4 separate regions of the Homo sapiens genome follow, and all the other regions are linked to region 1. The links come from fine-mapping of genetic effects on gene expression. A gene starts in region 1. Each other region holds a variant in brackets. All regions are shown on one strand. Distances are between the middles of the regions.

Region 1 (2,692 bases):
ATTTTGTTTGCATTTGAAAAACAGAACTTCTTAGTTTAAGAAATATTTTAAAAATAGGGGGCAAAAACATGAAAAATGCCCAAGTTAATAACACTCTCAGTTAACAATTGTTTATATTTGGTCATCTTTATATCATCATTTTTATTTTTAAAGCATTTTAGGGAAATATTATTTCCACCTTAATCCTAAAGTCCAATTGATTTCCCTTTCACACTTTCCAAAGACAGCCACAATCACGGATGTGATAAACATTTTACAGTCCCCCTTCTATGATTTTACAAACATGACAAGTGTCTTAAAATAAGTCACCTAAATGGCATGAGAGAGTGGATATATTTTGCATCTTGCTGTGTCTATCTGCCATCATACTTCTGAAATCTAGGTACAGGCATGCTGATCCCTACAGCTCTGATTTTAGCTTTTTAAGTGCTGCATAGCAGTCCGTTGTGTGAATACACCACATTTTATTTTTTAAGTCCTGGGGGAAAAAGTCCTTGTGGAGATGAAGCAATCATCAAAGGCAGCTAGGTTTTGCTTGTTTAGATGCTGGAGAACAAGCAGAAACACCTCCACTCACTTGTCTCAACCCAGCAAATATTTATTGAAGTCTGTCTGGGTCTGCACATGAGTCAGTGCCAGGCAGGGGAACCTGGATGGAGTGCAAAATAGCTGGAATTGGCCCTAGCCTGCATTTAGTTTTGTGAGTTATCTTGATCAGCAGCCTTTGTCTTCTCTTCTCCTTGCACTTCCTAGCTTCCCAACAGTACCCTTAGTATGCAGGTTTATTGTTATTATTCGTTAAATCTAGACCACCACTCACCTAGTCTCGATTCTTCCTTCATTCCTCCCATGAGGCTCGGAGCGATGCTTTCATCCAGGGAACAGGGACTAAGAGAAGAACTCCAAGAGCAAGGAGCAAGAAAAGGCACCTATCTGCCCGGAAGCGGCGGAGGCTGCGAGCGCCGGGCTGGGCTGGGCTGGGCTGCGCTGGACTGAGCTGGGCTGGGCTGGGGAGGCACCTGCGGCTGCCAAGGGGTCCGAGCGCCGCCCAGCGCACAGCTACCCCGGAGGGGCGGCTCCTTGGCCAGGGAAGGAGGCGGGATCTGCTTGCCAGCGGGCGTCTCCGCTTAGCGCTCTCTCCAGAAACCGCTGGGCAGTCTCCTGGGTGAGCGCCAGACGCCTGGGGTCCGTTTGCCGCCTGCTGAGACTAGACAAGGACCCCGGGAGGGCGACGTTGGGGGAGAGGGCTACGGATGGAGGTCCCGCCGCGCTTGGGCCGGGTCCGGAGCCACCAGGACGCACAGCGGGTACTATTACGCCCCATATCACGGGAACTGCCTCACCCCCCCTGCGATGTGGATCGTAATAGCCGGGGGGGGGGGGGGGGGAGAAGGGGGGTGCTATTACTCTCCATATCGCCGGGGGTGCCTCACCCCCCTGCGATGTGGATCCTAAAAGCCGGGGGGTTGAGGGGGAGAGGGCGGTGCTATTACTCCTCATATCGCGGGGGAAGCCTCACTCCCCTGCGATGTGGATCGTAATAGTCGGGGGGGAAAGGGGGACGCTATTAATCCCCATATGGCAGGAGGGTGCCTCACACCCCAGCGATGTGGCTCGTAGTAGCCAGGGAGGGAGGGGGGGTCCTATTACTCCCCATATGGCGGGGTGTGCCTCACCCTCTTGCTATATGGGAATTAATAGCATTCTCTCCCCTCTTGGACATTAGAAACAATTTCACAGTGTGTGTGTACACAGCCTGCGATATTGAAACTAACAGCATCCTATCCACCTCCGGTTATTAGGAACAATATCACAAAATGGTGTACACTCTTTGCGAGACTTGGAGTTCTATCGTGCTGTGTTTCCCTGAATATTCGTAGAAATGTGACAGCGTGGGTGTACACCCACTACTATATTGGGAGTAACTTCGTACTCCACCCCCTGGAAATTAGGAGAAATATCACGGAAGGGGTGTAAAGCCACTGCGATATTTGAAATAATATCATGCCCTCACCCACTAGTTATTAGGAACAATATCACAGGACGGTGTATACCTTCTACAGTATTGGGAGTAATATCATCATCTCTTTCTTTAGATATTAGGAACAATATCAAAGGGGGTTGCACACCCAGTGTATTATTGGAAGTAATATCATTCTCTCTTCTTCTAGATTTTAGGAATCATATCACAGGCAGGGTGTACCACCCTTATTATATTAAAAGTAATGTTATCTCCTTTCGACCTGGATATTAAGAACAATAAGAAATGCGTTCTGTACATCCTTTGAATATTGGTAGTAATACCATCTTTTCCCTTCCTGGATTTAAGAAACAATATGACTTGTGGGGTGTCCACCCCTTGCAATATTGGGAGTAATATCACCTCTCCCCATGAGGTTATTAGGGACAAAATCACAGGGTGGGTGTACACTTCCTACGTTATTAAGAGTAATATCATCCACTTTCCCCCTTTATATCAGGAACCATATCACAGAAGAGGTGTACACCCCCTGTGATATTGTCAGTAATATCATCTCTTCCCCCCTGGATATTAGGAGCAAAACCACAGGGGGGATGTACACCCACTGCGATATTGAAAGTAATAGCAGCCTCTTTCCCGCTGGATATTAGGAAGTATATCACAGGTGTGTGTGCACCTTCTGCGATATTGGTAGTAATATAAACCTCTACT
Region 2 (2,692 bases), 94 kb before region 1:
CCAGAGGCTACAATTAGAGGTATAACCATGAGCATTGGGAAGACGCAACTAAGCATATTGTGTGTGTGTGTGCGTGCGTGCACGTGCATGCAGGCACACATGCATCGCTCAGGATATGCACATAACAGCTTTCATTCTTTATGGCACATGCCACAACATTTAAAAGCCTTTTGATATTAATGTTGAAGTGTTTACTTGACTATTTTTCACACTATAATATTAACAACTTCTTATGACAGGGGGATTGTCTTCTTCCCCATGGGAGCCTGGCATTCAGAACACTGGCAAATAGGTACCCAGTAAATAATTTTTGAATAAATATTTGGACTAGAAGCATTATTCCTAAGATTTTTTTCTTCACTGTCAAGGTACTGATTTCTAGAAGAATGATAGGAACATCTCATAAGCAGCTACTCCAGCCCAAGAGGTCATGTGTGAGAAATAATTTCTATCTGCATCTTATACAGTCCCTAAGATGAATCTGGAATCAGTTATTGGTTCCAATGAGAACAGCAAAGAAGGCAAAGGTGATAAATAAAAATACCATCCTGTGTTTTTCTACACAGCCATAAATCTTCTTTTATTTCTCTTCAACATTTCGGTACTCAATGGGAAATGAAATTTTTGCAACTCTCTCTGTTGTACTGTAATTACTTGCACAAATTACTCTAATCAGATTTTTTATCTCATTCCTATAAAAATTTAGCAAACAGTGAGTTATAACCTCGTTATAGTGGGGGGTAATTCTCAGAGGGAAAAAACAATCAACCATCCTCTCAAATGGTATTTTGACCCAAAATGACTTACTATTTAATTGTCCCATACAATCCATCTCATTAGCTTAAATTCATAATTGAGTCTACTTTAAGATCTGACAAGGGAGTAAACAGAAATTTGTCTTTGGATTATAATATTAAATAATTACTTTCCACCAGATTGTTCATTGGAGAGGCTGAGGCAATCAACAAATAGAATAGTACTAACCCTGTAGAAGAGATTGTAATGAGTTTTGTTTCCCTTATTTTTTAAATAAAAGCAAATAATCACTTTGTCCCTAATTTAAAGCATTTATTTGCAGATTTCAAGTAAGCAAAAGAGAATATTATACTTCAAACTGGCCATTCTTTGGAAACTAAAGCTGATTTTCAAGCTGTACTCACACAAAAAGTTTGACTTCTTGACTAATAAGAAAGTTGTCTAATTGCACAATTCAAACTTAATGGTTATTATGCAACCCTGTGTCTTTAACAA[C/T]GATAGAAAAGAAAGATTCTGAAATTGAAGAAAACTAGCTGAATATTCTACATATTTGGGAAACTACCAAAAGTTCAAGTCCATGGATTTTTAAACATCCACAAAATAAAACTCCATTTATGTCTTAATGGGGATTTGTGGCGGAAACAGATCTTATGGTTTTTTTTAAAACATCACTACACTAGACATTTCTGGCAGAAAAGCTGAAGTGAAAACAAAATTTTAAAAAGACCCCCTTCTATGTTAACACAGGGAAACAAGTGAGGACTTCCATCCATTGAGCTCCTCTTGCTAGGCTAGACTTGCTGTGTGCTTTGGCTGTTAAAAGTCCCATTTACACCCTCAGAGCTCTCATGAGACTTGCTTTCTTACTCCCAACCAACTTCTCTGAAGTACTTGTCTTTCTTACACAATTTAGCTTCTAGTTTTAGGCTGTTTTCTGTATGAGCTCTCATGAAACTTATTTTGCGACTCCACACTATCTTCTCTGAAGTACTTGTCTTTCTCACACAATTTAGCTTCCAATTTTAGGCTGTTCTCTGTCTGTCCGTTCCACATGTACCACTTTCGTCTGTGGGTGCCTGAGGCAGGTGGCCATGCATAGGTGTCCCGTGCTCCCCTCAGAGCTGCAGCCATGCTGAGCATCTGCAGGCTGGAGAGTGGTGAAGAGCTCTGCATTTCCTAAACATGATGCTTTCCCTACTTAATAGCCATGCAAACTTGGGCAAGTAATTTTTCAGAACCAGAGTTTCATCGAAGGTGAAATGGGGACAAAGTGCCATAAACCTCCTGGAGCTATGGGAAGACTGAGTGAAATAACTCACAAGTGCTTAGCAGGCAGCCTGGTACCCAGGAAACCCTAAGCAAACAGCAGCCTACTGCTGCTCCTACTTCCACGTAGTGCTGACTGTTTACGGGTAATTTTGAATCTTCTACCATGTCCAAAGGCAAAATGTAGATTTTAATCTAAAAGTAGGAAGTCACATATTTTATATCTTCAGTTTTATGCAGATGGTCTCTCCTTGTCCGGGAGATCTACTGTACTTTCATTGATTCTTTTTTTCATTCTCACTTTTAATTTCTAGGAACTCAGCACATATTTTACAATCTAATCTTTCTAAGTAACTAAAAGGTGTTTTGTTATCTTGAATTCAAGTACAACATGAATCGGGCTGATTCTTTTGAAGAAGGAGGTTTAAAAAAGAATTACAGTATTCAGAAGCCTGTATCTCTTCTGTATTGCTTTTTGCACTCTCTGGCCCAGGAGTTCTTAGTCTCAGATTGACAAAGTTATTATCATTTAAATTCCTTAAACAAAGGGATCACTGCTTCTTTTACCATGTACACTTTTTAAAAAGCTATTTGACACCATTTCAAATTGATATCTGGTATTCTGAGAGCAGAAAATCCTGGTTATCAGAACACTGTCAGAATTAAAATG
Region 3 (2,692 bases), 64 kb before region 1:
TCAGGAATAGAATGGGAATAATAATCCCTATCAACCAGGTTGTTATGATGAATAAATGAGATAATATATGTAAAACCCAAAGTAATAGAACACTACTAATAGGGAAGTTAATATTGTTGATGCTGTGGCTCTGAAGGCCACCTTGAGTTCTTATGGTTTATAAACCCATGAAGAAATGCTAGCACTCTGAGTCACATATGATGGAGGCTGCTTCCAGGAAAGCCACTGAGAAGAGAGAAATAGCTCAGAGAAGGCTGAGCTATATGAACTATGCAAAATGTGTCAGGCCCAGAGAGACAGGAGTATGGGACTTCAGTCATATCCCCACACTGATGCCTGGGATTTTGTTTCTGACTAGCTGCCTGGCTCATTATCATCGTGATCCTGGAATTTGTGATACAAAGAATAACGTGTAGCCTATCAATAGCTTACGTTACTTTAACGTAAATTTTTGGCGAACAAGTTAGAAACTGCCTCTTCTTTTTTCCGTAGAAACCCACTTGTCGCTGCTGTTAATTGGAGTATATTCAGGGCAACTTGAATCTATGCTCCCGGATAACAATTTTCAAGCTTTGAGCCCCAATAAATGCTATACTTAATCATATTTTCTGAATCTTGTTTCACGTTGACATTTTACCACCCCAGATGGGATCTAAAGTGGAGCTTCAGTGATCCCCTCAAGTTCGTGACAATTGGAATGTTGGTACTGTCAGAGGCGTGTGAACCAGAGCAACTCCATCTTAAATAGGAGCTGGGTAAAATGAGGCTGAAACCTACTGAGCTGCATTTCCAGACAGTTAAGGCATTCTAAGTCACAGGATGAGATAGGAGGTCAGCACAAGATACGGGTCATGAAGACCTTCCTGATAAAACAAGTTGCGGCAAAGAAGCCGGCCAAAACCAAGATGACGATGAGAGTGATCTCTGGTCGTCCTCAATGCTACACTCCCACCAGCACCATGACAGTTTACAAATGCCATGGCAATGTCAGGAAGTTACCCTATATGATCTAAAAAGGGAAGGGAATAATCCACCCCTTGTTTGGCATATTATTAAAAAAACCATAAAAATGATCAACCAG[C/T]AGTCCTCAGGGCTGCTCTGTCTATGGAGTAGCCATTCTTTTGTTCCTTTACTTTCTTAATAAACTTGCTTTCACCTTACTCTGCAAACTTGCCCTGAATTCTTTCTTGCGTGAGATCCAAGAACCCTCTCTTGGGGTATGGATCAGGACTGCTTTCCTGTAACAGTACCAGAATCAACAGCTTGGTTCACCCAACCTCACCAGATCTGGCAGCCATCTCGGTATCCAAATACTCCCAGGTTAGTTGAGGATTCAGACTTTATTCAAGCCATACACATTCTTAACTCTGCGGGATTGGAATTGAAACTCTACTGAAAGACAGGAGTTTCATGTGTTATTCTCTAGAGATTATATTTACTTTGTTTTGTGATTTTCACTTTTCTCTGAAGTTAAGGTTTTCTTTGTCTTATTCATTAGAGTTTGTAACCTTTCCTCTAATACAAAATTTGGCCAAGAAGAATATAGTTTCTCTTGAAAAATAAGTAAATCTTTGTGGCTTAAGAAAAAACAAGCGTAGTTTTTAAAACTGGCCAGATTCTGAAGGCAGTTCAACTATCTAAAACTGAGGTTTCCTCCTTAAGAAGAGATCCACCATTAGAAATGCTAGCTCGATTCATACTGAATACTTACCATGCCTCTTCATGCAAATATTTAGAAAACTAGTAGAGCATAACTCAGAATGATTCCAACTGACAATGGCCAAAATGTGGTACCTTTTAAAATACCTAAATTAGTTTGTTTGCACACACAATTAGAAAAAGCTAGTTTTAGAACCAAATTGAGTGAGAGACTTACTTCCAATAGTACCTACAAGTTTCTAAAAGAAATCCTAAAAGAAAAAATTGCCTCCATTCAAGAGGTGAACAAAAGTATGTTTGAAACTATTTCTAAATTTAATAAGATTTTGGAGGTTTTCTCTTTCACCTCTAACTGCTCCATCTCCTCCTACTCCTGTGATCTAAACTCATCCCTTTCTGCTCATTCCCTCAGCTCCCATCCATCTCCTAGGAAGATAATTTTTAAACAGAGAGAACAAATGAAACAACTACAGAACAAGAATGATACTACAGAGATTATAAAAATACAGATCCAACAAACTTTTGTCTATACCAGGTCTAATGAATGACACTGATGATTTCTTGACCCAACATCAGATAGTATTTTTTTTTTTTTTTGAGACAGAGTCTTGCTCTGTCACCAGGATAGAGTGCAGTGGTGTGATCTCAGCTCACTACAGCCTCTACCTCCCAGGTTCAAGCAATTCTCCTGCCTAAGCCTCCTGAGTAGCTGAGATTACAGGCACGTGCCACCACATTCAGCTAATTTTTTGTATTTTTTAGTAGAGACGGGATTTCACCATGTGAACCAGACTGGTCTCAAACTCCTGACCTCAAGTGATTCACCCGCCTTGGCCTCCCAAAGTGCTGGGATTTTAAGCCAGCACATTTAAGTCACCATGCCCGGCCCAGACAATATCCTTCAAATGCCCTGCTGGACTTCACAATCCCTTGCAGATACAAATCTCATCATATCTTTGAAATATTAACATGCAGGAAATTAGCTAAACAGCATTCCAGCTGTGATCAGATCTGAAATGAGTTGAAATCCTTT
Region 4 (2,692 bases), 52 kb before region 1:
ATGATTGCTAAGGGTAGGGAAGAAAGAGCTGCATCCATTTTAGCTTTTTACATGGCAGCATTTTGAATAGGCCACTCTAAGATACTGATTAAATACACTGAGCTTAAGCTGAAATTAGACTCTACCATATCCGAGTAGTGCATAAACTGTAATAGACCTATTTCCAAGTCACATAAAACCATCTTCTTTTCAACTGTGGCATAGAGGCTTTGAGCAAATTGTATATTAAATGAACTGTAATAATTAAAGATGGATGGAGGCAGGTTTTATGTACTGATTTCTCCAGAAGGATGTCCCTAAACACAGAGTAAAACCTCAATTATTTTTCCATTAGCATTCTCTGAATAAAGACCCTTTTTTTTCTTTGCTGGTAAGTCAGAACTTCTTGGTATGCATATTTAAATAACAGTCATCCTGAATTAGCTTTAAGAAACACCACTTAACATAATGGACGCATTAAAATGTAAAATAAAATGAAGGTGACACACAAAGACCTTGACACACAAGAAAAGAACAGGAGGTAACAGATACTGCAAGCTTCTCTGCCATTTTCTATGCCTTGGATTATGGAAATAGCTTGGAGCGCAGATCACAGTCACTTAATGTCTAGTCATTGATACAAGTTAGCTTCAGCTCTGCAAAAGCTATTTGTTGACAAAGGAAGCACCTATCCTTGTCTAACTTACAGGTATATATGTGGCTGCCTAAGAAATACGCTACAAAGCAACAGTTTTATTGCCAGTTATTTTAAGGGAGAAAGTGCTTCGTATAAATTCTAAATATCAACCTCAAGTCAGCTGATGAGGCCAAGCTTTGTAACCAAAGTTCCTCCCGTGCAGTTCATGGGGAAAGAAAGTATCTAATAACTAGTAAGACATCTGAACTCCTTCCCAGTCAGCATATTTAATTACAATGTTTAAAAATATATATATATTGACCTCAAGGACAAGGGGAACTGTGACAACTGACCAAGAAGTATTTGTTAGTGACAATAAAAGAAAAATGTTCTTTCACTATAAAGCCAAAGAAACTAAGGAGAACAAAAGACCCTGAGGAAGATCCTAATGAGAATTTGACAAATGCTTGCCTAGAAATCAAGATGCATTTATGTAACAGTAGGGATGAAGATGAAAGTGAGACAAGAATAATAAAGGGTGGTAGCAGGAGAAAAGAAAATTCCAGACAGCAGTTTCACATGACTAGCAAAAGGAAAATGTTGAAACAGCTGCATAAACTGGGA[C/A]TGATAAGAACCTGAAAAACCAGGGTGTAAGCCAAGCTGGCTAAGTCCGACTAAACCTAATGTGGTGCTGGATTATTTTTCCATAAGTTATTGGGGTAAAGGTGGTTTTGGTTACATGGGTAAGTTCTTTAGTGGTGATTGTGAGATTTTGTTGCACCCATCACCTGAGCAGTATACACTACACCACATTTGTAGTCTTGTATCCCTCGCCCCCCTCCCACTCTTCCCCCTAAGTCTCCAAAGTCCATTGTATCATTCTCATTGCTTTGCATCCTCATAGCTTAGCTTCCACATATCAGTGAGAACATATGATGTTTGGTTTTCAATTCCTGAATTACGTCACTTAGAATAATAGTCTCCAATCTCATCCAGGTCACTGCAAATGCTGTTAGTTCATTCCTTTTTATGGCTGCATAGTATTCCATCATGTATACATATACCACAGTTTCTTTATCCACTCATTGATTGATGGGCATTTGGGTTGCAACTCTGTGCTCTGTAAACATGCATGTGTAAGTATCTTTTTTGAATAATGACTTATTTTCCTCTGAGTAGATACCCAGTAGAGGGATTGCTGGATCAAATGGTAGTTCTACTTTTAGTTCTTTAAGTAATTTCCACACTGTTTTCAATAGTGGCTGTACTAGTTTACATTCCCACCAGCAGTGTAGAAGTGTTCCCTGTTCACTGCATCCATGCCAACATCTGCTGTTTTTTGATTTTTTTTTTATTATAACCATTCTTGCAGGAGTAAGGTGGAATCACATTATGGTTTTGATTTGCATTTCCCTGATCATTAGTGATGTTGAGCATTTTTTCATATGTTTGCTGGCCATTTGTATATCTTCTTTTGAGAACTGTCTATTCATGTCCTTAGCCCACTTTTTGATAGGATTGTTTTTTCCTTACTGATTTACTTGAGTTCATTGTAGATTCTGGATATTCATCCTTTGTCAGATGTATAGATTGTGAAGATTTTCTTCCACTCTGTGGGCTGTTTGCTGACTTCCGTTTGCCATGCAAAAGCTCTTTAGTTTAATTAGGTACCAGCAATTTATCTTTGTTTTTATTGCATTTGCTTTTGGGTTCTTGGTCATGAAACCCTTGCTTAAGCCAATGTCTAGAAGGGTTTTTCCAATGTTATCTTCTAGAATTTTTATAGTTTCAGGTCTTAGGTTTAAGTCCTTAATCCATCTTCAGTTGATTTTTGTATAAGGTGAGAGATGACGATCCAGTTTCATTCTCCTACTTGTGGCTATTCAATTATCCCAGCACCATTTGTTGAAAAGGGTGTCCTTTTCCCACTTTATGTTTTCATTTGCTTTATCAAAGATCAGTTGGCTGTAAGTATTTGAGTTTATTTCTGTGTTCTCTATTCTGTTCCATTGGTCTATGTGCCTATTTTTGTACCAGTACCATGCTGTTTTGGTGACTGTGGGCTTATGGTATAAT

Which allele goes with the higher level. Alleles are on the strand shown, and positions count from the first base shown. SD is a standard deviation of normalised expression in the study named. Not every link is listed here.
For the expression in pancreas of the gene that starts at base 994 in region 1, C is the high allele of the variant in region 4 and A is the other (small effect, 0.37 SD a copy in GTEx).

The links. PIP is the estimated chance that this variant, and not a neighbour inherited with it, causes the effect. A credible set is the group of variants that fine-mapping cannot tell apart.
Region 2: its variant is the best candidate, but not a certain one, in a credible set for the expression of STK32A in tibial nerve (GTEx, PIP 0.89).
Region 3: its variant is the best candidate, but not a certain one, in a credible set for the expression of STK32A in thyroid (GTEx, PIP 0.54).
Region 4: its variant is the best candidate, but not a certain one, in a credible set for the expression of STK32A in pancreas (GTEx, PIP 0.89).

What each region holds. Positions count from the first base shown.
Region 1 is chr5:147,233,328-147,236,019 of GRCh38, reverse strand. STK32A (serine/threonine kinase 32A) reads right to left here and starts at 994. Exons shown (of 13, transcript NM_001112724.2): 1 at 821-994. It overlaps STK32A-AS1 (STK32A antisense RNA 1), which reads left to right and starts at 1,161. Exons shown (of 4, transcript NR_147190.1): 1 at 1,161-1,307.
Region 2 is chr5:147,327,028-147,329,719 of GRCh38, reverse strand. The region is part of intron 5 of STK32A (serine/threonine kinase 32A); the gene reads right to left. Among named protein-coding and RNA genes, the nearest start is that of STK32A, 93 kb to the right of the region's middle. The variant C/T (reference allele first, on the strand shown) is at 1,252.
Region 3 is chr5:147,297,543-147,300,234 of GRCh38, reverse strand. All of the region lies in intron 4 of STK32A (serine/threonine kinase 32A), which reads right to left. Among named protein-coding and RNA genes, the nearest start is that of STK32A, 64 kb to the right of the region's middle. The variant C/T (reference allele first, on the strand shown) is at 1,082.
Region 4 is chr5:147,285,049-147,287,740 of GRCh38, reverse strand. The region is part of intron 4 of STK32A (serine/threonine kinase 32A); the gene reads right to left. Among named protein-coding and RNA genes, the nearest start is that of STK32A, 51 kb to the right of the region's middle. The variant C/A (reference allele first, on the strand shown) is at 1,241.